Homo sapiens: one gene and its partners. The protein of the gene in region 2 interacts with the protein of the main gene of each other region in a pairwise test. Each region holds a gene or a part of one and is shown on either strand. Other genes may lie near its edges. The genes, in order: SETX, SAMD3, DBH and PRKCG.

Region 1 (7,938 bases), on a different chromosome or scaffold from region 2:
AATTTTCTACAGACTTATCCTTAGGCTATCCATTTCTCAACATTAACTAGCCAGAAACTTCAAATAACAATCTCTTTCTTCTACACTTCTCAGCTAAACATCTGGAAGTTTAGATTCACTACCTCCCAGCTCTTCAGCTCCTTTGCACTCTGGCTTCTACCCTTACACTCCACTGAATGTGAAGTCCCTAACAATCTTTACATTACCAATCCAATAGGTTCCTGACCTGACTCTGCTAAAGCATATGAAAATGCTGCCCATCCTTTCCTTACCTACAACACACCATTTTTTGGACACCACTTCTACCCAATCACCTTCATAATTACCCCTGCCTTTGTTACTCATATAAATGCTAAAGTTTTCGAAGGCTTGTCCTGAGAATTCTCACCTCTTCATTCAGTACTCTTTCTGGGCGGCCTACTTCAAACCACTGCTTCAACTACTGCCTAGATTGAAGCTGCCCAGACTGAGAATGTATTGTAAAACTTAATGCAGGCAGGGCGCAGTGGCTCACACCTGTAATTCCAGCACTCTGGGAGGCCGAGGCGTGAGGGATCACGAGGTCAAGAGATCAAGACCATCCTGGCCAACATGGTGAAACCCCGTATCTACTAAAAATATAAAAATTAGCTGGGCATGGTGGTATGCACCTGTAGTCGCAGCTACTGGGGAGGTTGAGTGAAATGATGCACTGTTCCACCTACTCAATAACTGACAGCCTAGCCTAGAACTCCAGATATATTCAATATCCAACTGCATACAGTGTATCTCTACTCACATATCTGACAGGCACCTCAAAGTAAACATGACCAGAACCCAACGAAGTCCTTCCCTTAAATCTGTTATTTGTTCTATATTCCCTTGTTGATGACATTACCATACATTCAATTTTCAAACCAGTAACCTAGGAATTATCCTATACGCTCCTTCTCCCTCAGCCGCAATCTCTGAGCTCCAGAGCCTACCCCTTAATTACATCTCTACTTTCTTCTCAGTGCAACCGCCACTGCCTTAGTTCAGTACATTTTCATCATTTGCCTGGATTACTGAAGAAGCCTAAATGATCTATTTCTTCTTTGATCGCCATCAATTCCTCCTCCAAAATGCTGCCAGAGGCCAAAGCCCCAAACTGGACTTCGAAAGCACAAATGACTCCTCCTCCAATGTTGGGATAAAATTCAAATTGCTGAGCTCAACACACACAAGGCCCGCGATGATCCAGCTTCCACATCATCTCTTTCCTCCACACTTACCTCCCTTGACTTGCTCTTCCTAAAACCATTCATGGTGACTGGTATTCCCTGCCTTTATGGAAGCTCTTCCACTGGCCTTGGAAACCCACCCTCCTACCTCTGCCCGGTACTTAACTGTGAATACACATCAGACTTACCTCAGGAACTTAAAAAAAAAAGTAGAAAAGATCCTATGGATAAAATTGTTTCCCTTTTAAAGAACTCCACTAAGATTCGAAGAGAAAGCTGGATTTGAGAACAACCAGTGTGCAAGCTCTTCCTGAGTGTCATCACGTCTGGGGGGGGGGCCTGTCCGACCCGTCCTCTCTTCCAGTCTATCTCTGATGACCTTCTTCTCTGTCCCTTTAGGACTCTGCACATGTTTCCATCATTGCACTTACCTTGGTGCTCTGAACTCCTGCTAAAAAAAAAAATTATTACCTGGACAAATGGCCTACAGAAAAGTGATCGTCTCAGCTGGGCTTAGTTGTGAACAAACACGGATTTGCATTCATATATGCCCAGACTCTGGCCCCAAAAGAACATTTCTGAAATTAAAAAACAAAAAACGAAATTGGTAAGTGGCATTTATACTCTATATCCCATCTGAGCCTGGTATCGATCCTATTACAGACAGATACTGCTGGCTGATGAGGAAGCCCAGATAGGTTAGACAACTTGGCTGTGGACTTCCAGGAAACAGCAGAACTGCAATTCTGACTCCCAGTTCCACAAGGGGCTGTCCCCACTCACGGGGACAGCTAGGCACCGAGCCAAAAATCCCCCAAGTTATTAGCCCGCGCAGGTAACATCAATCCTAGGATCCTCAGCTGTGTCACTTATCAAATACCACACTCGGCCTTCTCCTTGTGGAGCTCTTTTCCCTCAAGGCAGTCACCCCCGTTTCACTTGGGTCGTGCAAATTGCTGGGCACATCCTTAGATCCCCAGAAGTTGGGGAGGACGGACAAAGTCCTGTGGCCAGCAGCAAAAGCTCCAGCCCCTCCAAGTGGGAGAAACAGACTCTCCTCCAAACGAAGGGACCGGCCGGGCGCGGCGGCTCGGAGGATCCCTGGAGCAGCTGAGCTCAGCCTGGGAAACACAGCCAGGCCCTGTCTCTGCAACACATTTTGTTTTTAATTAGCCGGGCGTGGTGACGCGCGCCTATGGTCCCAGTTACTCGGGGGGATGAGGCGGAAGGATCGCTGGAGCCCAGGAAGACGAGGTTGCTGCGAGCCGTGACTGTTCCACTGCACTTCAGCCTGGGTGACAGAGCGAGACCCCGTCTCAAAAAAAAAAAAAAAAGAAAAAAGAAAAAAAAACAAAGGGAGGGACTCCAGGCGAGAGGCAGACGAGCGTGTGGAGGGAACCGACACTTTCCACCCCGAGACCTCCCGCTCAGCCCCAAGGAAACTACGCAGTATCCACACCAAAAACAGCTCACACGAGACCGCAGTGTAGACAACGGAAGGACAGGGGGTCGCAGCGGCCGGGTCCAGCGCGCAGGAAGGCAACAGGCGGCCGCCAGCCGTCGAGGGGTGCTCCCGCCCCCGCACCGAGGGAAGCGGCCGAGCCCGCGCCGACTCTTCCCCCATCCGCCCACCGGGACCTAGGCGCCGCGATGGTTCCCCGAAGCGGCCCTGCAAGCACAAGCCGCGCCTGCGCTCACGCCCGCCCGACCTACGGCCTCCAGCCCGCCGCTACCCTCACCGCTCTCTGGCTGGCGTCGGCCTCTAGCCCACCTCCATACCGGGCCCCGCTCTAGGCCACCAGCGGAAGTGCGGGCCCGCAGCCGCAGCTACCAACCAGCTGTTGCCGCGAGGTAGGCCCCGCCCCCGCGCTGAGTCGGCCGGCCGCAGGCCCCGCCCCGGCCGCTGCTTTCTGGTTTTGGTGCCCCCCAGGGGGCGGGGCATGGGAAGAGCGGCCGCGGTGCACCGCCCACGCCGGGCGCTGGCGTCACGTCCGGGCAGCTGGGGCCCGACCAATCCCGAGTCCCCGTCAGGGTGGACGGGGAGAGTTTGCCGCGGAACCTTGACCTCGGCCCCGCCCGGGGCTTCCTGCGGGTGGGGCGGCTCCGGGATGAGCTCTGCTGCGGGTGGGGTCAGCCCTTACCCGCTGGCCATTTCCGTTCCCTCTTTTTTCTTCTTTTTTCCACGCCTCAGGTGTCTCAGCGGATGTACTACGGTGACGAAGTAATTTTTCTCTTTAGATTTCCTTTAAAGACCTGAAATGTAAATTACATAAACGTGTAATTTCGGAGGAATATGTGTATATCCTTTATATTACAAGAAAGGGAGACCTTAGGTCTTGCGAACAATGCGCGCGATGCGCAACACAGCAGAGTAAATCCCTCGCTGGTGCGGTGGCTCCCGCTTCTAATCCCACCACTTTGGGAGGCCCAGGCGGGAGGCTCGCTTGAGCCCGGAGTTCAGAGACCAGCCTGTGCAACATAGCGAGACACCCGTATGTACAAAAAAAAATTAAAACTCAGCCACCGAGGCCGGGCGCGGTGGCTCACGCCTGTAATCCCAGCACTTTGGGAGGCCGAGGCGGGTGGATCACCTGAGGTCAGGAGTTCGAGACCAGCCTGACCAACATGGTGAAACTCCGTCTCTACTAAAAATAAAAAGATTACCTGGGCGTGGTGGCGGGTGCCTGTAATCCCAGCTACTCAGGAGGCTGAGGCATGAGAATGGCTTGAACCCGGGAGGCAGAGGTTGCAGTGAGCCGAGATCGCACCACTGCACTCCAGCCTGGGCAAAGGAGCGAGACTCTCTCTCCGGAAAAAAAAAAAAAAAAAAAAAAATTAGCACCTGTGGGCCCAGCTTGTTGGGAGGCTGAGGCAGGGGGTGGATATCCATTGAGACCGGGAGATCGAGACTGCAGTGAGCCGTGACTGTGCCACTACACTCCAGGCTGGGGAACAAAGCAAGACCCTGTCTCAGAAAAGTCTATAAATAAATAAAAATGAGTAAAATCCACTGGAAAGCCTATCCCCCCCCTTTTTTGTTTTTGAGATGGAGTCGCGCTCTGTCACCCAAGCTGAAGTGCAGTGGCGCAGTCTCGGCTCACTGCAACCTCCGCCTCCTGGGTTCAAATGATTCTCCTGCATCAGCCTCCCGAGTAGCTGGGAGTACAGGCGTGTGCCACACGCCCGGCTAATGTTCATGTTTTTAGTAGAGATGGGGTTTCACCATGTTGGCCAGGATGGTCTCAAACTCCAACCTCAAGTGATCCGCCCCGCCTCGACCTCCCAAAGTGCTGGGATTACAAGCGTGATCCACCGCACCCGGCCCCTACCCCCTTTTAGTAACGCCTACTACTGACCACGATGATGCAGCGTCACCGTCTTACAGTTAATAGAGGAGACAGGGAAATTAAACAATTAGTAGTGGTGACTCAGGCGATAAAAAAAGAGGCTGAGATGGGCCAGCTTGGGAAAAGTGGGTCAGATACAGCCTTACCGAGGAGAACCCTGGCCCGAGGATGAGGAGCAAGCCCAGGGGAACACTGCGGGAAAGGCCCAAGGCGAAGGAAGATTCTAGCAAGGGGGCGTGGCTTGTTGGAAGGGCGTGGTGGCCGTTATGCAAATTTAACCGTCTAAGGAGCAGCACGCGTTGACCGTTATTTTCCTCTTTTCTACTTCTTCATCCTGTCAAATATTTTGAACATATTTTGTTTTATCATATAACACTAATATACCAACACAGCCTTTATACCACCACAGTCATAAAATATAATTTTTTTTTTTTTTTGAGACGAGTCTCGCTCTGTCGCCCAGGCTGGAGTGCAGGGGCGCCATCTCGGCTCACTGCAAGCTCCGCCTCCCGGGTTCACGCCATTCTCCTGTCTCAGCCTCCCGAGTAGCTGGGACTACAGCCACGTGCCACCACGCCTGGCTAATTTTTTGTATTTTTAGTAGAGACAGGGTTTCACCGTGTTAGCCAGGATGGTCTCGATCTCCTGACCTCGTGATCCGCCCGCCTCTGCCTCCCAAAGTGCTGGGATTACAGGCTTGAGCCACCGCACCCGGCCATAAAATATAATTTTTATCATTTTTTTTAATGGAGAAAAGTGCCATGAAGGTAACTTGTGCCCAGAGCCCACAAAAGTCATAATTTCCTCCTGTCCCTGAAGCCCTCTGTAGGCCTTATCATCTTCCCACATTTTTTGTCTGTGAACAACATATAAATTTTACATGCTTTTTAACTCTGTATATGGAATTATGGAGGATGTATTTTTCTGCAAATTGCTTTTTACACTCAATGTTATGTCCTGAGACTCATTGATTCAAGGTGCATTCAGGAATTGTTGAGCCCAAAACTTACACAACCTATAGAATGTTAAACAGAAGCACTGCAATAGACTTTGTAAATATAAAATTAGAAATGAAAATTAATACTTATTTGGAATGAATAAATAAGTACAAATTACAAACTTCTAAAGCTGATAAAACCATAAACATGGCCAGGCGCAATGGCTCAGGCCTGTAATCCCAGCACTTTGGGAAGCTGAGGTGGGCAGATCACCTGAGGTCAGGAGTTCAAGACCAGCCTAGCCAACATGGTGAAACCCGGTCTCTACTAAAAATACAAAAATTAGCCAGGCTTAGTGGTGCATGCCCGTAGTTCCAGCTACTTGGGAGGCTGAGACAGGAGAATGGCTTGAACCCGAGAGGCGAGGCGACAGAGTGAGACCTCATCTCCAAAAATAAATAAATAAATAAATAAATAAATAAATAAATAAATAAATAAATAAATAAAAAGACTGGGAAGTATGAGGCCTCCAGTATCGTTCTTTTTCAAAATTGTTTTAGCTACTTAAGGTCCCTTGCTATTCCATGTGAATATTTAGAATTGGCTTGTCCCGTTTCTGCAAATAAATAAGTACAAGCAGTTGGAATTTTTATAGGGATTGAATTGTATTTTTAGATACATCTGGGGAATCAATTGACACCTTAACAATATTAAGTATAGCAGGTTCTCTAATAAGATCATTTTGTTCAATGTGGTTTTGTTATAACATTGATGAGAAAAAAAAAATCCATTCCTGCTCAAGGCTTTTTTTTGAGACGGAATCTCCCTCTGTAGCCCAGGCTCTGGAGTGCAGTGATGCGATCTTGGCTCACTGCAAGCTCCGCCTCCCAGGTTTCGGTTCAAGCAATTCTCCTGCCTCAGCCTCCTGAGTAGCTGGGATTATAGGCACGCACCACCACGCCCAGCTAATTTTTGTATTTTTAGTAGACACGGAGTTTCAGCATGTTGCCCAGGCTGGTCTTGAACTCCTGACCTCGTGATCCGCCTGCCTCAGCCTCCCAAAGTGCTGGGATTACAGGTGTGAGCCACCGTGCCTGGCCCCGAGGCCACTTTGTGTGTGGAGTTTGCCCCTTCTCCCCATGTCTGTGTGGGTTTCCTCCAGGTACTCCAATTTCCTTCCCGATTCCAAAGATGTGCCAGTTAGGTTGATTGGCATGTCTACATTGTCCTAGCCTGAGTGAGCATGGGTGTGTGTGTGAGTGTATACCCTGCAAAGGGATGGCATCTTGTCCAGAGTTGGCACCCACCTGGCACCAGGAAAGATTCTGGCCATCCGCGATCCTGAACTGGAATGAGTGGGTAGATTATTACCTTGTTAATCTTATTAATAAAGATTAGTCTTTTATTAATCTTTCTTGAATGTATAGCCTACATTTATTTCAATGTTTAATATTAGAAGTGTTTTGTGTGTTTACTTAGAAGTTTGGTCAGAATAACTGGCTTTTATGAGACAAGTCAGAACTTGTGGCTCAGAAGACAAACCCCACACACATTCAAGTGGATGAAAACAAGCCCCCTACAAGGGCTCTATCCTCCTCCTCCTCCTAGTTGTTCTTTAGTTTCAGAACCTGTTTGATGTGTTTTTTTAATCCTATATATATTTTACGGTTGTGACTTATCCATTGTTTGATTTTTGTACAAGAAAATCTTTGCTATAGAAATCAGTATACTATTTTTATCTGGAGAGAAGATATTATGGCAACTTAAACTGTGGTCAGATGTTAGAGAAAAATGTATAAATGCCTTCTTGCCATGCTATCAGTCATATTACATTCATTTTATATTGACTGACAATATCAAAAGTTTCTTTTTTTGTTTGTGTAAACTCTAATTTCTATCAAGGTGTAATGAATATTTAAAGTTGGTTTTTCATTACAAATCTCTCAGTGTTGGTTAACTGATTTTTGCCAGGACCATTATGCATTAAGCAAACAAATTCCACAGCCATTTGGGGGTAAAAGAGTAGGTTACTGATTTGAGATATTTCTTCTTTTTTAATGTAGGTGTCTACAGCTATAATTTGTCCTTGGAACACTGCTTTTGCTACATCCCATAGATTTTGGTATGTTGTATTTTTGTGTTCATTTGTCTCAAAGTATTTTATTTTATCTATTTATTTATTTTTGAGACAGAATCATTCTCTGTTGCCCTGGGTGAAGTGCAGTGGCATGATCACAGCTCACTATAGCCTTGATATCCAGGGCTCAAGCGATCCTCCTACCTCAGCATCCCAAGTAGCTGGGACTATAGGCAAATGCCACCATGCCTGGCTGATTTTTTCTTTTTTTTTTAGTAGAGACAAGGTCTTGCTATGTTGCCCAAGCTGGCCTCGAACTCCTGAGCTCAAGCAGTTCTCCCACCTCGGCTTACCAAAGTGCTGGGATTACAGGT
Region 2 (7,049 bases):
ACCTCCAATAAATTTGAAGGAAAAAGTGGTGAGCACAGTCATAGTAACTTAAATTTCATATGTTTACATTTTTTTCTTTTTCTATTTTTTTGAGATGGAGTCTCGCTCTGTCATCCAGACTGGAGTGCAGTGGCACTATCTCGGCTCATTGCAACCTCCACCTCCCGGATTCAAGCCATTCTTTTGCCTCAGCCTCCTGAGTAGCTGGGATTACAGACGCGTGCCACCATGCCAGGCTAATTTTTGTATATTTAGTGGAAATGGGGTTTCACCATGTTGGCCAGGTTGGTCTCGAACTGCTGAGCTTGTGATCCACCTGCCTCGGCCCCCCAGAGTGCTGGGATTACAGGTGTGAGCCACTAGCCTGGCCAATTTTTACATTTTCAAAGAAACTAAAGAGCCACTTATCTGGGAGGTTTAGTTAAATTAATGAACAAAAATAGCAATGAGCCAGAGTCCCAGAACTTTGGAACTTTTGAGTCACAAACACCCTAGTGTTTTGGCCTTTGAGTCAAACTTATGGTTTATCCCTGCTTCTGCCTCGTTGACAGCCAAAGCTTATGGTTCAGCAACACAGATTACAGTCCTGCCAGAGATGGTAACTGTGAACTGTGCTATTGAATTTTATGAAAAGCTGGATGTGTGACTGAGAAGTCTTGATAGTTTGAAGATGTCATTTCCCTCAGAATTAATTTATAAATTCCAATTAATATACATACGTGGTTATATGTTTTACTTACTATGAGGCTAGTTTTCATGTGGAAGAATAAATAGGTAAAAAGAACGAAAAATGCTTGACAAAAGGACTTGCACTTCCAGATGTTAAAAAATGTTATGCTATTAACAGCATGGTACTGGAGGAAAAGAGAACAGATATTGAAACAGAATAGAAACTTAGAAACAGAAACATTCATATGGAAGTACTGAAAATATCTTTTTTTTTTTTTGACAGTCTCGCTCTGTTGCCCAGGCTGGAGTGCAGTGGCACGATCTCGGCTCACTGCAAGCTCCGCCTCCCGGGTTCATGCCATTCTCCTGCCTCAACCTCCCGAGTAGCTGGGACTACGGGTGCCCACCACCACGCCCAGCTAATTTTTTTGTGTTTTTAGTAGAGACGGGGTTTCACTGTGTTAGCCAGGATGGTCTCGATCTCCTGACCTTGTGATCTGCCCACCTTGGCCTCCCAAAGTGCTGGGATTACAGGCATGAGCCACCACGCCCAGCCAGTGAAAAGATCTTTAAAATTGGTGACAAAGAAGGGATTAGTCAATATATTTTGTTGGGATAATGCCTCATAACACCTACACAATAAATTCCTCAGATAAGTTAAATATGTAAATATGAAAAATTAAAAAGAGTTTAAAATAATCTAAGATTACATAATAAAAATAAAATATTGATAGATTTGACTAAAAAGGAAAAACGCATGTGTACACATATATATCACAGTGGACCCTTGAACGACACAGGGGTTGGGACGCTGACTCTGCTATGCAGTTGAAAATTTGCAAGTAACTTTTGACTACCCCCAAACTTAACTACTAATAGCCTACTATTGATCAGAATCTTAACTGATAACATAGACAATTAACACATATTTTGTATGTTATATATATTATATACAGTACTGTTACAATAAAATGAGTTAGAGGAAAGAAAATGTTATTAAGCAAATAACAAGGAAGAGAAAACATTTACTATTTATTACATGGAAGTGGATCATCATAAAGATCTTCATACTCGTCGTCTTGCAGTGAGTAGGCTGAGGAGGAGGAGGAGGAAGAGGAGAGTTGGTCTTGCTGTCTCAGGGGTGGCAGAGGCAGAAGAAAATCTGCATGTAAGTGGACCTGAGAGGTTCCAACACATGTTGTTCAAGGGTCAACTCTATAATCCATAAAACCAACTAAAAAATTAATACACCAATAGAAAAAAATAGGAATAGGTAACTCTTGAACAAAATTTTAAACCAGTATCTGAAAAATCTACATTATTTGTAATAAAAATAATTAAATACCATCTTCATTTATTCCATTGGAAAAGGTGAAAATTAGCAAGAATGCAAGGTCAGTTGTTCTCTTACACACTGCTAAGGGGAGTATAAAGTGGCACAACTTGCCCTGTCATATTATTCCCATTTTATAATTGAAAGTCCTGGAGTTTACAGGGTAACTCGCCTAAGGTTCCTTTGCTTGTAAAGGTAAAAGTGATTTGAATCCAATCTATCCAACTTTAAAGGGTACTAATGCAAGCCAAAAACATTAAAAATATTTCTACATTCTGACCCCAAAATAGCATTTCTAAGAATGTGCCTAAAGACATTAACAGAAATGAACACAAAGATGTGTGCCATAGCAATGGTCCGAATAGCAAATAAATTGGACAGATAAAATTTCCAGCAATAGGAATTGGCCAATGAATTACAGTAATTTATATTTAAAATAAAATACTATGTAGTAATCAAAAATTGTATCTAGACAAATAACTATGTAGAGAGAAACAGTCATGGATATGGTTAACTGCAAATAAATTTAAAATAGTATGATTCAGATTTGTGGAAAGAATAAAATAAAAGTAGAATGAAATGCTTGGTTACACAAAGGCTGGGAAAGCATATACTAGAAGGCAGAAGTGGCAATCTCTGTTTGGAGGAATTAATGTTTTTTGTTTGTAATCTGCCACTCTTAAATTTTTCTCAATGAAAGAATTTTATCTTAATATCAGAAAAGTTAGAGTTTTATAGAGAAAAGGTAAAAAGTGATATTTACGGATTATTGCTGGAGAGGCTTTTGGTCCATCTCTTCCAGAAGAGAAGATCAAAGGAGAGAGCACCCCTCCTCCCCAGGCAAATCCGATCAGTGGATGTGGTTCTGGTTCCTTTGTTTTATCTGAAAAATGGAAGATATCACCTACAAATCTGGAATCTTGGTTTCTCTTGAAAAATCAAAAGTTCTGGTGATACTGGGTTCATATTTCTGAATGGCAGCAACTGAGCAGTGGCTGCCCCATTGAAAGACAGCAAGACTGGGAGCCTCACAGTACACAGGAAGCATAAGGTAAGTTTGAAACAGGGTGGATCTCAGACAGCTAACGTTTGCACCTCTCAAAGGAAGAAGATTCTGACAAGTGTGACAAATACCCATGTATGTACATACATGTTTACCATAATATATCTTTGGAACATTTAATTCTTCCTTAGTTACCTTTTTTAAGCTCCTAGAAGAAATAACACTAACTAGAAAAAAAATTTCCTATATCAATCTTAAGGCAGATATAATAATAATGTATTAGAATTTAGACATTGAATTCAAAGTCAAGGACTCAAAGCTTTGCATCTCAGAAGGTTCTAGTGTCTTGAGGCTTCATTTTCTTTGTAGCTACATCATTGAACTAAAATGCACAAACCTTTATTTAGCAGACATTGGCTGAATGTAATTCTCGTTACATAGCTCAGTGTGTACGTGATAGTGCAGGTGATAGCTGAACATTTTATAGCTCTGAGTAGTGGCAAGAACTTACATTATTAAAATATTACAACTATTTTTTTGGAGTTACTCATTTGTTAGAACACATGAAAGGTGACTTCTGTATCCACCTATATTGCTCAGCTGGTAGAGTCAAGCTGGGCTCTCTTGATCTGTTAACACTAAGTGCTGGTCTGACTTTGTAGGCCTCTTCAGGAAGAAGGGGATGCAAGGTAGTGGATCTTCTTAATGCAGTGTGACTCAAAGTGAAACTTGGAAACACCCTTGCAGGGCGTGCGATGGGTGTGACTCGCTTCTTCAGTACCCTGCAGCTCAAACCCCTAGAGGGAGCATGCAGACGGGCAGGTCATGGGGAGCATGGGCTCCTACCCCATGGCAGCACCTAGGGTTGAGTGTTTACAGCTCCAGAAGCCCCAGTGGGAGTGTGTTACAGTGCAGTCTTTCAGCTTAGCCATCCGCAGGTGGCTTGTGTTAATCAGCTCAATTAGATCCTCTGCCTTATCGCAAGGACAGAGGGCTTTCTGTATCCCAAGGTTCTTGCCTTAATGTACCAGAAAAATTGAATCACATGTAGGCTTGGAGAATGGGTGCACAGTTTTATTGACTGGTGGAAGTAGCTCTCAGCAGATGGATGGGATCCACAAGGGGAATGGAATGGGAAGGCGGTCTTCCCCTGGAGTCAGGCCGCTCAGTGGCCTGACTCTCCTCCAACCACCCCCAGGCAAATTCTACGTGGTCCACATCATACTGCTGTTGATGTCCTGCCAGTCTGTCAGTGTATTCTGCCAGTGTGTTCCTCTTGATGTCCAGCCGCTTGTGTCTGTGCCCGCTAGGGTCTCAGGGTTTTTATAGGCAGAGGATGGGGGTGTGGCGGGCCAGAGTGCTTTTGGAAAATGCAACATTTGGGCGTGAAAACAGGAGTGCCTGTTCTCACTTACGTCCATGGGTACAGGCCTGAGGGTGGAGCCCTAGCCAGGGACCCCATTCTTCTCTACCCAGCACTTCCCTGCCCGCCTCCCGTATCAAAAGCAAAGCACAGATGGGAGGTGTGGAGACACAAAAAGGCATAGGACCCTGTGTTTCTCATGAGTGACAAATGCTCATGCTTCTGCCAGCCCTAGGTTCATGTGAGGACGGGCCAGAATGTTCAAACTTTTGTTTATGCAAAAGCACTCTATTTATTTATTATTATTATTATTATTATTATTATTATTATTATTATTTTTGAGATGGAGTCTCCCTTTGTCACCCAGGCTGGAGTGTAATGGCACGATCTCAGCTCACTGCAACTTCCACCTCCTGGGTTTAAGCGATTCTCCTGCCTCAGCCTCCTGAGTATCTGGGACTACAGGCACGTGCCACCACGCCCAGCTAAGTTTTTGTATTTTTAGTAGAGATGGGGTTTCACTGTGTTAGCCAGGATGATCTCGATCTCCTGACCTCATGAACCGCCTGCCTCGGCCTCCTAAAGTGCTGAGATTACAGGCATGAGTCACCACGCCCAGCCCGAAGCACTCTTTTTAGAGTTGGCCCAAAAGGTAAAATTCATACCAATTGGTAGGCTATAGTCCATCATTAAATATGAGTCTGTGTGTCTGAATTTGTGTGTATGTGTGTGTGTTAGAGAGAGATAAAGAGAGACAGACAGAGACAGAGAGCAGTACTGAGCAAGAGAGTGAGTGAGCATGGGGAAGAAAGTAAGGAGGAGAGGAAAAGGTTATGTGAATGATTAACAAGTAAAAAATAATGTTACTGAAACACCAGGGGTTCAGTTTAGGTCCTGCTATTTGCTGCACAGAAAGCCAACGACTGAGACAACAAGTATTGCCAAGGAAGAAGGCTTTAATCAGGTGCTGCAGTCCAGGAAATGGGAGCTCAGTCTCAAATCCATCTTCCTGATCAACTAAAATTAGAGGTTTATATAGCGGGGAAGAAATGTTAAATATGTATGGGAAAACAAGAATGTGGAAGGAGTAAGGGAGCAATTACAATGAATGAGAGGCTGGTATCTCATTGTCTGGATCTGGTGAGTTTCAAGCTTTAAAACCAGAAGGATTAATTTCTATATTTAAGAAAAACTGTCTATGGGACTACTGGATCAGTTTCAGTAAGATAGGCATATTAGAAATAAAGACTGTAAGGATTATAATAGCACATAGCTTTCCTCTTTAGATTGTTCCAAGGTAAACTTATTTTTAAAAATCCTTACATTCCAATCTTAACTGCTGCCTACTCACTTCTACCATTCTTTGATTACATATGGGAACAAATGTGGCACACCAATATAAAGGTGAGAGTAGTTGGAAGAAGAGGAAAAATATTTATTCATATATTAGGTCATCCAAAAAGCTTAAGATATGAGAAAATTCAGTATTTCTATAACCAGGCCAAAAACTAACTTGTCATTTCAAACTCCTTGGCATTTGGAAGCTTGAAAAATGCTTGCCTGGGCACCTATTCCTGGTAAAGTGCTAAGGAGAGACGCCTAAGGAAATTGAGGGGTCAGCCTGATGTTGGCTTAATCCTGGCTCCATTGTCTTCTGATCACATCACCCTTCTTATCTAATTGATGTGATCACTTGTTGAGTTATCTCATCCAGTTATTCTCTTCCTGGTACAGTCTTCTATCCACTGTTGCAGAAGTATCTGCAGTAATTCAGGACAGCGCCGCTTTTCCCAGGAAGGGGTATTAGTGAAGCTGTCATTCTACCTTTCTGGAGAGCCTGATGGGCAGACTGGAGCTTGAGGTGTTATTGAAGGGTGCAGAGGTTGCTGCTGATCCCCTGTGTTTCTCTCTGTTGAACTCAGAATTCAGAATTTTATTTTTAAGAATGATTTTCCAACTTACCTAATATAAGAACAAGGGGTGTACTTCATGAAAATATTGATTCCTAAGCCCTTTCTTAGAAGATTCTGATTCAGGTGGGTAGAGTGAGTTCTTATAGTATTTCTAATCATTACCATTGATTCTTATGATCAGCCAAGTTTGAGGAGCAATTGAAAGATTTATTATGATTTATTTCCAATGTACAGAGCCCTATAGGTCAAAGTTAGCACACCATCCCCAAATGTCATTATGCACAAATTATACCTTTGAGAAATGTGTATAACACTTTATAAAAATAATTATGAGGGGCCGGGCACCATGGCTCACGCCTGTAATCCCAGCACTTTGGGAGGCCAAGGCGGGTGCATCACCTGAGGTCAGGAGTTCAAGACCAGCCTGGTCAACATGGTGAAACCCCGTCTCTACTAAAAATAAGCTGGGCATGGTGGCAGGCGCCTGTAATCCCAGCTACTGTCAGTGTAGCTTTTCTGTAGGCAGGAGAATCGCTTGAACCTGGGAAGCGGAGGTTGCAGTGAGCCGAGATCATGCCATTGCACTCCAGCCTGGGCGATAAGAGCGAAACTCTGTCTCAAAAAAAAAAATTATTTACATCACTGAAATTAAATTAGTAACATTGTGTTTACAAGGATTTTTCATAAAGCTAAGGATGTACAATAAATACAGTAATCTGATATTTTTTACATTTAAATAAATTGTGCAAAAATATACATAATGTAAAG
Region 3 (7,023 bases), on a different chromosome or scaffold from region 2:
AAAGGCCTGGCCCCATGCCCCCGGATGCATGGTGGACATGGTGGACATGGCGGACATGGCGGGGTGGTCTGGAGGGGCTGTGCAGCAGGAGGCTCTGCCCCCTGGGTTATGTACAGGAAAGGGATGTCAGGCGGCAAGGAGTGTGAAATTGACAAGGGGTTTTAATTCACAGGGAAGAGGCTTCTGATGAAGTTTAAGTAAAAAAACAAACAACAATGAAAAAAAAAGATATAAAATTCTAGTCACAAGAAAAAAATTAATGGGCCAGAAAAGCAGTCAGGACAGACACATAGCTGGGTGACCAGTGCTCACTTCAAAACTTGGAGCCGGGAGCTGGGGGGTGGTTTCATCTTCTTCATGCTTTTCTGCTGTCCATCTTCTCACCAGTGTACATGCATTGCCCTTTCTGATCAAACCAAGAGGGTGGTACAGATACTAACATCTTCCCTGGGTGCCAAAAATGCTCTAAGCATAACCTACCCCTTTCATGGAAGTTTTGCACAGTGAGAATCATCAGCCCTATTTCACAGATTAAGAAACTGAGGATGGAGCCTGAACTGAAGACTCCACACAAGACCACAGGGCTGGGAAGTGGCCAAGCTGAGGTTCAAACCCAGGGCTGTGGACTGGGGTGCAGGGCACTTCCAGGGGGCCCAACCATCTCCCTACTTGTTTCCTTTAAGATGAGGCCAAAACAACTCCTCTTGCCTCTGCCTTCTTCCCTCGACACCCCTACACCATCCAAACTCAAACGGCTCCTGTATCTCCAGGCTGATTACATCAGAGGATAATAATAAAAAGGGTGTTGCAATTGGTTAAAATTCAGATGGGGATTAAATCATGAAATAATTGTGGGATTTTGATATTTATAGAAAAGCAGCCCATCTCAAGATGGGTGAAGTGACAGGAGCGTCCTTATATTTGGCAAAGGATCCATAAATACAACCAGATAATCATGAAGAGACAGACTTCCCTGATGCTTCAGGAGTTTTCAAAAATCCATTTGCTTTCAGGGTTTAAATGAGCAATAAATCCCGTGTCATGCTAAGGCCCAAGCTGACTTATACCCTTCTCTGTGCATGTGGAGATAACTCCAACAGTGGCGGAAGGTATTACTTATGCAGCCAGGAAAAAAAAAAAAAACCACAGGCGACTGTTAGCTGAGCACAGCCCCGTGCCCACAGCAAGTTCTGTGCGTGAGCCTTTCCCAGCTTCACAATAGCTGTGGGAGGTGGGAGAACAGGCAGCGGGTGAGGTCATCCACCCAGCGTCCCCAAGGTGGTGAGGCACAGCCTAGCACCTATCTCTTAGGCCACTTCTGCACCTTGCACAAATGAAAAGAAGAAGCACCATTCAGAGAGAGAGAAAAAGTGTGTGCATGTGTGTGCTTCTGCGTGCATATGTGTACATGTGTGCATGTGTGTGTGCGTGTGTGTGTGCATTGTGTGCGTGTGTGTCTATATATGGTGAAAGATGCTGGTGCAACAGAGAGAGGGAAGTATTTTTTTCAGTTTCTGAGACAGCATCACCTGGCCTTGCCATGCTAAAAGCTGACCCTGCTCACTCCACCCTCAGGTATGGGTGATCCAACAGCAGCTGCCCCAGCTCCCCTTCCCGTCCCTGCACTCTGGCCAGGCCGGAGCGCCTGTGTCCTGGAATATGCCCTGCTTTACTACCACCTCCCTGTTTATGCACACACCTCTCCCTGTATTTGGAACTTGGCATCTGGCAGCTTCCCTTATGAAAATTCTCCTTGTCCTTTCCCCTGGGATGCACAGTGCTGCGCCGATGGCAGCCCGTATTATAGGGACGAGGAGGGAGGTGTGGGGCCACTGCTGGGCCCTGGCGAAGCTGTGAGGAGTGAGCCCCTCGAGGTCCTGTCCCTGGGAGCCCACCACAGCCATGGAAGATGGACAGCGGATGAGGCAGACGCAAGGGCCTCGTGCCAAGAGGAGCTGTACAGCGGGGGCACCATGCTGGGCAGACGAAGGGCGGGATTTGCTCACTGGCTCAACACAGCTGAGTCCTAGGGCTTCTGAGGAGGATGGCAGCAGAGCCGCCTACCTTCTATCACCAGTGGGTTGTGGTAGTGAACTTCCAGGCGGAGATATCTGGAGGACCCTGGACCCCCGAAGGCAAGGCCGGCTTCCTCTGGGTAGTAAAATGCCTGTGTGGGGCAAGGTGTCAGACAGACGGGTGTGTCCTGAGAGGGCCCCAGGTCTGGGCAGGGGCAAACCCAGTCAACTGTTGGGGCCTGAGCCTCAGGGGTGGTGGAGGGGGCGCAGCAGGATTAGAGCGATGCTTCCTCCTGACAGGCAGCTCATTACACGCCCCAGGAACATCCTGTGAGACTCGGGTCAGGGAGTTGGGGAGAGGAGCTGGTGCCTAGGGCTGAGCCTTCCCCCAAAACCCCTTCTCTAGACGGGTGTAAGAGCTGGGGAGACCCCCATCGTCTCAGCCTGTGGAGGCCTCAACACTGGCCCCACCGCCAGCCAGCCCTGGGACCACCTGTACACAAAACCCTGACTCCAGTTGGGAAACAGAATCAGGACCCACTGAGGGCATAAGGTCCTGCGGCACTTGCGTTTCTGTGGAAAATAAAAAAAAGGCTTGAAGCATTTCAGACATCACAGAGGCGAGGGGGCCACCTCAGGCCTGGCCCTTCTGGTGGCCTCGTGAGCCCCCTTGGGAGCCCCTTCTTGAAGCCTCTGAGACGGTGAAGCTGGGGAAACAGAGGTGTGGGGATGCCAGGGGCCCAGGCAGGAGACACCATGCTGGGGTCGCAGGGCACGCACCTTGGCACCCAGGGCCCAGGCGGCCAGCACGTGGCGGCAGTAGTTGAGGCGGTCGGGTTTCATCTTGGAGTCGCAGGGCCCGCTGAAGTGGGGGACGCTGTCCATCTCGGGGGCGCACTGGAAGACTTCCATGTGGTGGACAAGGGCCTCATTGCCCTTGGTGACGATGGGCTCGTACTGTGAGGAGGCAGCCCTCTGAGCCCGGGAACCGGCCGCCCACCCTCCCCTCCCCAGCAGCCCTCCTCCATGGGCTTCCGAATGCCCATCTGTAAAATGGGAGGGATGATCCAGACAATTTCAGGGGCACTTCTGGGGTTCACAGCCTTGAGGGTGGAGCCATCAGCCCAGAAAGAAATCCCGTAGGCAGCTCCAGAGTGAAGGAAATGAGGTTCGTACAGGCCAAGGCAGGGACAGGACGCAGCCGTCCTCATGCATATGGGGCTGTGGCCGGGCCAGCTCCTGCAGCCCCAGTGGGAGGCAGGGCAGCCCTGAGGTTAGAGCCCGGGCCCAAAGCGCACCTTCAAGGCCATGCCTCTTCCTGCTGTGTGACTCTGGACACTCACATAACCTCTCTGAGTGCACCTTCAAGGACATGCCCCTTCTTGCTATGTGACCCTGGACACTCAACCTCCCTGGGCCACACTTCCTCTGCTGGAAACTAGGGGCTCTTATGATGAAGGAGGGATCACCTCGCCCCTCCCCCGGGACTAGTGGCATAGTGGACACTCGACAGCTATCGCCTTTGCTATTCTGTCTTCCCCGGACGGGTGTTCGAGAGCAAGTGAGTTCTGACTCGAGCTGCTTTTTCATGAAGGGGGAGGTGGCCTGGCAGACAGACAGCAGTTCCAGTCCCAAGGAAAGATGCAGAAGTCAAGATGTTGGTCACTTTGGTCCAGGCAGGGAAGTGGGAGCTCCAAGGCCCTTTGAGGGTAGGGGAGTGAGCAGAGTGATGGGGAAGCCAAGACCACTTGCTGCTCCCCTGCTCAGGCAGGTGCCTGAGGTTCCAGTGATAAGAGGACACCTGGTCCAACCAGGACTGTGGACAGCTCTCCAGGGTCAGGGACAACCCAGGCCCGGGAGGAAGGCAGGGCTGGGCGAGGACCTCGGCCCTGGACCCGCACGTACCTTGATAATGTGGTGCCGAGAGAAGCCCTTTGGAAGCTCCTTAATGTAGCACCAGTACGTGGTCTCCTGGCTGGGGATCTGGATATTGGGAGCTTGGACCTCCATGGTGCACGCGTCTGAGGGCAACTCCGGTTCGGGGATATTGGGCTTCAGGAGCTGCACCCTCTGCAGCCCCATCTGCAGGCCCGAGCCGTTGATGGCCTCCAGTGACCGGAACGGCTCCTCCAGGATCCCGTAGACCAAGTGGACAGTGCCGTCCTGCAGCCGAGACAGGGTTCAGCTGGTCGCCCTCTCAGAGCCCCCAGAGTTGGGCTCCTGAGAGGATGCCACATCCCTGCCCACCCACACCTACCAGGTGACACACCTCACTCTCATCTCTGTGAATAAGGGACCCTTGAGGCTTGCATGGCCCTGGCTGGGGCCAAATCCCGGGCTGACGACCCCCAGGATCCCCTATTTGCACCGGCCATCAAATACTTTTCTCTTCTAAACACATTCCACCTACATTCACTTAACATCCATTCAACCAGTGACTACTGGGCCCGCCGTGAGCCAGTGTGGCCGGAACATTTGTTCCCTCCACCAACCCCAAGGTCACTGGGGACTGGGTGTGGGGGATCATTGGTCAGTTCAGCAGCCCAGCCTGAGGATTCAGTGCCCTCTATGAAGGGAAGGAAACACCCTGGGGCTTGCTGATGGTCACGCTGAGCTGCGGAGCCACGCTATATTATGTAGTCACCACCAGCTTGGCAGGAGGGGACCAAGCAGCCACAGAAAGCTCCATGGATCTACGCGGTGCTGGAGGCCACAGGCAGACTCAGGAGGCAAGCTGTGGGGCTGGCTTCCTCACATGCTGTCATGAATGGAAACGGGGATCGGGTGTGGAAAGTGCCTTTCATAGCTTTCTGGGCACTCCACAGTGCAGACCCGTGTGGGTGGCTAATTTGCTCTTTGAGTTTGCGGAAAGCCGATGGGCCGCCCTGTGCAGGGGACGCCCAGAACTCCAGGCAAAGGCCCCTATACCTGGCCTGGGGCCACTGGGCTGAGCACACACAGGCATTGGCCTCCCCCTGTGAGGTGCTTCCAGAGGGTTCTCTGCTCACCCTTGCCTCGTCCACTGGGAAGCAGGGTAAGGGCTCAACAACCTCCTGGAAGAACACCTCTTCTGGCACCAGGTCTGCCCCAGCACACCCCGAACCCCTGGGTACATCCACTCCCCGTCTCCGGGCCTTAGTTTCCTCATCTGGCAAACAGCCAGCTGTTCTGTTTTCTTAGATTCCGTATTTGTCTATTTGGCATCTATTAATGGATTGCAGGCTCAAACAGATGGCCAGAGTTGTTTACACCTGCCCTTCCCTCCAACATTCACGCTTGTGTGAGAATCATATTCCCAACCCTCCAACCCGTCCCAAGCCCATATCCTTAGCCACCTCCTCCACCTGACTGTCACACACCAGGCCAATATTGCCTCAGCCCTAAATCACCCTAGGGCCAGGAACCAGGCAACTAGAGACCACCCCGGCCACCCAGAGCCCACCAGAATTGTCCAAATGAAGCAACTTCCCTGCCCTGCCTGGCCTTTCCCATGGAAACCCCAAGAAAGCCTCAGGCCTGGGCTCTCCCCTAGCTCCTGCATCTGCCTCCTGACCAAACCCAGGGCTCTGCAGGTGGCCCTGCACGGCACAGGTGCCCCTTCTCTCCGGAAATGCAATCAATCTTTCGATGGCACTGGCCTCCCGTGTGGTCACTCAGCTACACCCATGATTAAGACCTGGCACTAACGGCCAGCCCAGGCCACTGCCACACCAAAGGATTACTTACACAAGACAAAAGCTGTCAGGTGTGCTAGAGTTAAAAGAGTTTTGTCTTCAAGGGCAAGGTGGGTTGCTTTCCCTAAGAGGTTGGGGGGCTCTTAGAGCAGCATAAGAAGCCTATGGCTTTTACAATGTTTTATGGCTCCCATGAACTCCCAGAGTTGGTCAGGCCATACAGATCATCTAGTTCCCATCTCCATTTTACAGATGGGCAAAGTGAGGTCCAGAGGAGGGGGGCAGTTGTCCCGAGCCTCACAGCGAGCTGGCAACAGGGCCGGGATGGAAAGCCAGGTCGCCTGGGCTCCAGAATCCCACCTGATGGTTAACAGGACCAGGAGGAGAGAGACATCCAGAAGCAAGGTCTAGTCCAATGGGAGAGGCTTCAGCACAAGCCCCGCATCTAGAAACCATGTCAGCTACGTGTTGGCAAAGAGCTGCGTCTTTGAGGGCTCAGGGGCAATAGCAGAGCTGGACCATCCTAAGTGCTTTGGCCCCACCACTGCCTCTGGCCATCCTCCTTGGCTTTCTCTCTGTCATAGCTGGCCAGGCCCAGGCCCCAGACTTATCAGGGACAGGAAAGGTACTATGACATTGGCACAGGATGGCAGCATGATACACGCAGCCCACGCCCTCCTGGGTACTCGCGGCCACCCCTTACTTCAATGAGGTAATCCTTGGGGTCGCAGGTGCCAAAGGGCCTCTTGAAAAGCAGGGTCAGGCCTTCTGGGGTCCTCTGCACCTGCAGCAGCTGGTAGTCCTGCTGGGGATCCAGGTGGATCTGCCCCTTCTGGTCACTCCAGGCGTCCTGCAGAGACAAGCACTGGGCTCCAGGCATGAAGGAGCCAAGCCGGGCCAATCCACAGGGGAAGAGGGCATTCCCCGGCAGAGCTCCGCATTCATTGCCAGCTGATCTGGGGATGCTGGGCCTCAGTCCCTGTGGATCTGAGGGTTCTGCCTGGGGCTGTGGCTTCACTCACACCTTCTATCTCCATTTCTGCCTGGAGACAGTGGAGATGAGCCCCGACAGTGGAGTTGGTTCCTCCTCTGCAGCCAGGAACCAGGGCTGTCACTTGCCAGCAGGTCACAGGTTCTGTTAGCCATGGGCATTCCCGGGCCTGGCGGGCGGGACACTGAGCTTCTTAAGAAGATGCCTGAGGCTCCCAAGGCCTCCTCAAGACTGGGAACAATGCCTCAGACCAATGCTGCCCACATTCATGCAGGCAGGAGAGTTGCGGAGCCTCAGAAAGGGGAGAGTTGGGAACAGGGTGGGACATGAACAGGAAAGGAGA
Region 4 (7,023 bases), on a different chromosome or scaffold from region 2:
TTCGTGTCATTTGAATTGGCTTAAATTTTTTTTTTTTATTTTTATTTTTTGAGACGGAGTCGCGCTCTGTTGCCCAAGCTGGAGTGCAGTGGCGCAGTCTCAGCTCAATGCAACTTCCGTTTCCCAGGTTCAAGCAATTCTTCTACCTCAGCCTCCTGAGTAGCTGGGACTACAGGCGCATGCCACCACACCCCGCTAATTTTTTTTGTATTTTTAGTAGAGATGGGGTTTCACCATGTTGGCCAGGCTGGTCTCGAACTCCTGACCTTGTGATCCACCCGCCTCGGCCTCCCAAAGTGTTGGGATTACAGGCGTGAGCCACCGCGCCCGGCAGAACTGACTTAAATTTAAACAGCCACATGTAGTTAGTGGCCACCAAATGGGACAGCACACATCTGGACACTTCCAGGCTTGTTTTGAAGTCAGGTGGGTTCAGAGTTTCGCCCAGGGTTTGACACAAGATCGGAGACAGTTTTATGATGTACAGATGGAGAGAGAGGCAGAGAGAGAGAGATCCACAGAAGTCCATGAGGCGTTTTACCACCCTCTCAGCTGAAAATAACAGAAGTCTACATAGAAGATGTGACTTCATAGAACATATATTGAGCACCACTGTCTACCAGCACGTGTATGTGATTGATGACCCCCCTCGTCCACTCACCTCCGCCACCAACACCAGATAAGTCTGATGCATCCAGTGCTCATTGGGTACACTCATCAAGATTTTTTTTTTTGTTTTTTGCCTGTAATCCCAGCTACTCGGGAGGCTGAGGCAGAATTGCTTGAACCTGAGCGGCAGAGGTTGCAGTGAGCCAAGATCACGCCACTGCACTCCAGCCTGGGTGACAGAGCAAGACTTTGTCTTGGAAAAAAAAAAAAAGATTTTTTTTTGTTTTTGTTGTTTTGTTTGATTTTGGGGTATTTTTTAGATGGAGTTTCACTCTGTCACCCAGGCTGGAGTGCACTGGTGCAATCTTGGTTCACTGCAACCTCTACCTCCCAGGTTCAAGCGATTCTCATGCCTCAGCCTCCCGAGTAGCTGGGACTAGAACAGGCATGAGCCACCATGGCCGGCTAATTTTTATATTTTTAGTAGACAGGGTTTCATCATGCTGGCCAAGCTGGTCTTGCTCCTGACCTCACGTGATCCACCCACCTCGGCCTCCCAAAGTGCTGGGATTACAGGCGTGAGCCACCGCACCCAGCCGATTTTTGGGGTTTTTTGAGACAGGGTCCCACTCTGTCACCTAGACTGGAGTACAGTGATGGGATCATAGCTCACTGCAGCCTTGAATTCTCCAGGCTCAAGTGCTCCTCCTGCCCCAGCTTCTCAAGTAGCTGGGACTATAGGCACAAGCCACAACACCTAGCTAATTAAAAAAAAATGTTTTTGTAGAGATGGAGTCTCACTCACTATATTGCCCAGGCTGGTCTTCAACTCCTGGTCTCACTCGATTCTCCTGCCTCAGCCTCCCAAAATGATGGGATTACAGGCGTGAGCCACTGCACCTGGCCTCAAGTATTTTGTATACAGTATAGGTTGGATCCACACAACAGCTTATTTGGTTATTTTTCCCTGTCTATCTGGTTTGAATCCCAGCTCCACCACTTTTTGGTTCTGTGACATTTCCTGAGTTAATTTACCTCTCTGCACTTGTTGAATTCCTTGTTTGTAAAGTGGAGATGATAATTATGCTCACTATGGATTGTTTTGAAGATTTAGTGAGTCAGACATTTGGGATGGTTTCTGACACATAGCAAGAGCCAAAATATTATTTTTTATTCTTGTTAAAATTATTATTATGACCAATGAGGAAACGAGTGAATAGTGAGAAGGAGATCTTTCCTCTGCATCACTCGGGGGTTTTTTTGTTTTTGTTTTTTTTTGCTGTTGAGACAGGGTCTCACTCTGTTGCCCAGGCTGGAGTGCAATAGTGCTATCACTGCTCACTGCAGTCTTGACCTCCGGGGCTCAAGTGATTCACTGCTGGCAGTTGATCTTCTTAAAAGTAACATGCAGGCCAGGCACAGTGGCTCACGCCTGTAATCCCAACACTTTGGGAGACCGAGGCGGGTGGATCACCTGAGGTTGGGAGTTCGAGACCAGCCTGACCAACATGGAGAAGCCACGTGTCTACTAAGAATACAAAATTAGCTGGGCGTGGTGGCACACGCCTGTAATCCCAGCTACTCAGGAGGCTGAGGCAGGAGAATCACTTGAACCCAGGAGGCGGAGGTTGCAGTGAGCCAAGATTGCGCCATTGCACTCCAGCCTGGGCAGCAAGAACAAAACTCTGTCTCAAAAAAAAAAAAAAAAAAAAAAAAAAAAAAAAAAAAAAGGTAACATGCCTTGACCAGGCATGGTGGCTCATGCCTGTAATCCCAGCTCTTTGGGAGGCTGAGGCAAGCGGATCACGAGGTCAGGAGATCCAAACCATCCTGGCTAACGCGGTGAAACCCCGTCTCTACTAAAAATACAAAAAATTAGCCAGGCACGGTGGCACGCGCCTGTAGTCCCAGCTACTCGGGAGGCTGAGGCAGGAGTATCGCTTGAACCCCGGAGGCAGAGGTTGCAGTGAGCCGAGATCACACCACTGCACTCTAGCCTGGGCGACAGAGTGAGACTCCATCTCAAAAAAAAAAAAAAAAAAAAAGTAACATGGATCAAGATTTGGCAAGAATGATTTCATTTAGTCCCCAGGGAGGGCACATGCCCCCACTTTTCAAGCGGTAAATCTGAGGCTTTGAAAAGGGGCAGGCGTGGTGAGGCCACCTAGCTGGGTAGGGGATAGAGGCAAGATTTGAACTCTGATGTATGTAACCACAGCCTCCGTGCTGTCTCCTTTTTAACAGCGACGTTCACTTTTGAGAATAAGAACAGCAGCCTCTGTCTGTGGATGGTTTGTGTGTCAGGCAGCCTGCTGAGAACCTTCACACACAGCATCTTATTTAGTGCGGCAGGAACCCTTTGAGTTAGGGTCAGCGGAGATATTTAGAAGCCCAGCACATTGAAAAGGATCCTGGAAACTGCCAACACCCTCCTCTACCCAAATATATATTCAAACTAGAAACCCCACTAACATAGATGAAAATCCAAGAATGGCCTAAATGTTCACCCTGTGATAATCCTTTTAATGGATTCTTAGAATCAAGTTATTTAACAAGCAGATATTGTCCCGGGGGTAGTGGGTGGCAGGGGAGAAGGAGAAGCTTCACTGATGACCTGCATTCTTGCTTAATGGACTCTGGAAATTTAGCATTGCTTCAAAATATAGATTATTTATTTCCACTTGACAGAGGAGGATGCTGAGGCTCAAAACTGGGAATGAACTTGCCCCAAATCACACAGCTGAGAAGCGGCCTAGCTCTTACTTACATTCAGGGCTATGTAGGGACTTCAATAAAATCCCTAACAATAACCACAGTAATAGTATTGGGAGCATCTAACGTGGTAGGCACAGCTATGTTTTGTACACCAATTATTTTATTTAGGCCTCCTGGGTTCCTATTATAACTGAGAGGTCATGTTCTCCATTCCACCTGGAGCTCAGAGAAGGCATACCATATGGACACTGACAGAAGCTGCCAGTGAAGGAGCTGGGGTTCAGGGTGGCCCACAAGTCCTCAAATAATAACTTGTGGGAGTTGGGGGGATGGGAACTATGGGAGGTTGGAAGCTCCTGCCTCCTTCATGTTCTGCCCAGATATCATTTGGTCAGCGAGGCCCCCCTGCCACTCCCCCTGCACACAGTTTTGTTGTTGTTGTTGTTGTTTGAGACAGAATCTTGCTCTGTCATCCAGGCTGGAGTGCAGTGGCACAATCTTGGCTCACTGCAACCTCGGCCTCCTGGATTCAAGCAATTCTCATGCCTCAGCCTCCTGAGTAGCTGGGATTACAGGCATGCACCACCATGTCCGGCTAATTTTTGTATTTTTAGTAGAGACAGAGTTTTGCCATGTTGCCTAGCCTGGTCCGGAACTCCTGAGCTCAAGGCAATCCGCCCACCTCGGCCTCCCAAAGTGCTGGGATTACAGGCATGAGCCACCGCACCCAGCCAGGACCACCGTATTTAAAATTTCAATCCCCCAACTTCTGGTGGTCCCCATCCCTGCCTCATTTTTTCTCCAGAGCACCCATTACCAACCATCAAACTATATGTTTTATTTATTTACCATGTTTACATTCTGTATCCCTCCATTAGGAAGTAAACTCCATGTGACAAAGAGGTTTTTTTTTTTCATTTGTTTAATGCTGGGTCCCCACACCAAGAACAGTCCCTGGCACACAGCAGGTGCTCAATGATTATTGGTACATAGAGTGAAAGAGATGGAGCCTCAGGCTGACCTAGAGAGCAAGGCAGGAGGAAAAGATAAAAGGGCCCCTCCCCTGGGGTTTTAGGACCCTCCCAACGCCCCCTAAGCCAGTCTTCTCTGCCCCCAGGACCCCCGGAACAAACACAAGTTCCGCCTGCATAGCTACAGCAGCCCCACCTTCTGCGACCACTGTGGCTCCCTCCTCTACGGGCTTGTGCACCAGGGCATGAAATGCTCCTGTGAGTGACCTGGGCCTTGCCAGGGCCCTTCCAAAGCGCCCGGTCTGGGTTCCGGGAAATGCCCGGGATGGGGTGGGGGGTGGAGTCTTGGCTTGGGGGCGGGGCCTGAGGTGCTACCCGCAGCTTTCCCCTCCAGGCTGCGAGATGAACGTGCACCGGCGCTGTGTGCGTAGCGTGCCCTCCCTGTGCGGTGTGGACCACACCGAGCGCCGCGGGCGCCTGCAGCTGGAGATCCGGGCTCCCACAGCAGATGAGATCCACGTAACTGGTGAGGCCCCGCCCCCTCGCCTGGCCCCGCCCCCTCCCCAAGTGTGAGGCGGGGCTGACCCAAGGCACTTGTGCTGGCCCAGCCCTACCCCAAAGATGGGGCCACGCCTCTTTCTATGGTCACGCCCACACTCCTGACCCCACCCCAAAGGCCGAGCACACCCAGCCATACCCCTTTTGGCTCGAAGCCCCGCCTCCAACCTGGCTTCTTGCAACTTTCTGCACCTGTTAATGACTTTGACTTTCTTTTTTTTTTTGGGACGGAGTTTCGCTCTTGTTGCTCAAGCTGGAGTGCAATGGCGCGATCTCGGCTCACTGCAACTTCCGCCTCCCGGGTTCAAGTGATTCTCCTGCCTCAGCCTCCCGAGTAGCTGGGATTACAGGCGCGTGTCACCAAGCCCGGCTAATTTTTTGTATTTTTAGTACAAACGGGGTTTCACCATGTTAGCCAGGCTGGTCTCGAACTCCTGACCCCAGGTGATCCCCTCGACTCGGCCTCCCAAAGTGCTGGGATTAACAGGCGTGAGCCACCGCGCCTGGCCAATGGCTTTCTTTTTTGTTTTTATTTTATGTTTATTTTTTTGAGATGGAGTCTTGCTCTGTCACCCAGGCTGGAGTGCAGTGGTGCAATCTTGGCTCACTGCAATCTCTGCCTCCGGGGTTCAAGGGATTCTCCTGCCTCAGCCTCCCGAGTAGCTGGAATTACAGGCGCCTGCCACCACATCCGGCTAATTTTTTTTTTTTTTTTTTTTTGAGACAAGATCTCGCTCTGTTGCCCAGGCTGGAGTGCAGTAGCATGATCTCAGCTCACTGCAACCTCCGCCTCTCAGGTTCAAGCGATTCTCCTGCTTCAGCCTCCTGAGTAGCTGGGACTACAGGTGCATGACACTGCACCCAGCTCATTTTTGTATTTTTAGTAGAGACAGGGTTTCACCATGCTAGCCAGGCTGGTCTGGAACTCCTGACCTCAGGTGATCCGCCCGCCTCCGCCTCCCAAAGTGCTGGGATTACAGGGGTGAGGACCGTGCCCGGCAATGGCTTTCTGGGTATAAGGATCTTGAGAAGGGAGAGTACCTGGTTCTGAGGGAGGCTGTGGTTCAGTACTGGTGACATGGCCAGGGTCCAAACTCTGGTTCCTAATGGAGAGAAGGGCTCTGGATCTGATTTCAGGGTCACTGGTTGCGGAAAGGGCTCTATGCCCTGTCTTCTGGGTTCTGGAGAGGTAAGAAGTCATGAGAAACGAGACTGAGAGCTTGGAATTCTTTTTTTTTTTTTTTTGAGACGGAGTCTCGCTGTGACGCCCAGGCTGGAGTGCAGTGGCGTAATCTCGGCTCACTGCAAGCTCCGACTCCTGGGTTCACGTCATTCTCCCGCCTCAGCCTCCTGAGTAGCTGGGACCACAGACACCTGCCACCACGCCCAGCTAATTTTTTTTTTTTTTTGTATTTTTAGTGGAGACGGGGTTTCACCATTCACAGGATGGTCTCGATCTCCTGACCTTGTGATCCGCCCGCCTTGGCCTCCCAAAGTGCTGGGATTACAGGCATGAGCCGCCGTGCCTGGCCAAGCTTGGAACTCTTGATTGCTGACTGGAGGAGGGCTGGGAGCCCCTTCCTGGATCTCTAACCCGTCACACTCTTCCTCACTCCCCGTTTAGTTGGCGAGGCCCGTAACCTAATTCCTATGGACCCCAATGGTCTCTCTGATCCCTATGTGAAACTGAAGCTCATCCCAGACCCTCGGAACCTGACGAAACAGAAGACCCGAACGGTGAAAGCCACGCTAAACCCTGTGTGGAATGAGACCTTTGTGTTGTGAGTCTGGGGTGCAGGGAAGGCAATGACAGCTGACAGAGAATGATCTGAGGGTCCTAGTGGCCCCCAGAGAGCAGCTGATGGGAGGGGTTAGGATAGAGGGAACCCAGAAAAGGGCAGAAGAAGATGGTGGGAAAAGGGAATAGAGTGATTGAGGGAGTGGGATGGAGATACAGAAACGGAGAGACAGCCAGACCACTGTATAATTAGTCTCCATTGAAGCCCCCAACTTTAGAGTTAGACAGAGATGAGAGAGAGAAGAGAGAGTCTCAGAAGAGGCAGAAACCCAAAGAGAGACACAGATGGAGAGGGAGGGGAGAAGATGGGGGATGGCAGGGAGACAGAGATCAGTTGACAGGAAGACAGAGTGATAGAGACCCAGAGAGGAG

What was found.
Region 1: the proteins of SAMD3 (region 2) and SETX interact in binary tests that used the Homo sapiens proteins (3 or more experiments, as listed by UniProt).
Region 3: the proteins of SAMD3 (region 2) and DBH interact in binary tests that used the Homo sapiens proteins (3 or more experiments, as listed by UniProt).
Region 4: the proteins of SAMD3 (region 2) and PRKCG interact in binary tests that used the Homo sapiens proteins (3 or more experiments, as listed by UniProt).

What each region holds. Positions count from the first base shown.
Region 1 is NC_000009.12:132,351,976-132,359,913, forward strand, and holds the start of SETX (probable helicase senataxin), read right to left. Parts: upstream 3,012-7,938; 5' UTR 2,942-3,011; exon of another isoform or gene 2,662-2,941; intron 1,781-2,661; 5' UTR 1,674-1,780; intron 1-1,673. UniProt on the Homo sapiens protein: Probable RNA/DNA helicase involved in diverse aspects of RNA metabolism and genomic integrity.
Region 2 is NC_000006.12:130,219,929-130,226,977, forward strand, and holds the start of SAMD3 (sterile alpha motif domain-containing protein 3), read right to left. Parts: upstream 3,024-7,049; 5' UTR 2,766-3,023; intron 1-2,765.
Region 3 is NC_000009.12:133,639,362-133,646,384, reverse strand, and holds part of DBH (dopamine beta-hydroxylase precursor), read right to left. Parts: intron 6,540-7,023; coding exon 6,393-6,539; intron 4,179-6,392; coding exon 3,921-4,178; intron 2,973-3,920; coding exon 2,796-2,972; intron 2,168-2,795; coding exon 2,065-2,167; intron 1-2,064. UniProt on the Homo sapiens protein: Catalyzes the hydroxylation of dopamine to noradrenaline (also known as norepinephrine), and is thus vital for regulation of these neurotransmitters.
Region 4 is NC_000019.10:53,885,197-53,892,219, forward strand, and holds part of PRKCG (protein kinase C gamma type), read left to right. Parts: intron 1-4,441; coding exon 4,442-4,553; intron 4,554-4,689; coding exon 4,690-4,821; intron 4,822-6,477; coding exon 6,478-6,634; intron 6,635-7,023. UniProt on the Homo sapiens protein: Calcium-activated, phospholipid- and diacylglycerol (DAG)-dependent serine/threonine-protein kinase that plays diverse roles in neuronal cells and eye tissues, such as regulation of the neuronal receptors GRIA4/GLUR4 and GRIN1/NMDAR1, modulation of receptors and neuronal functions related to sensitivity to opiates, pain and alcohol, mediation of synaptic function and cell survival after ischemia, and inhibition of gap junction activity after oxidative stress.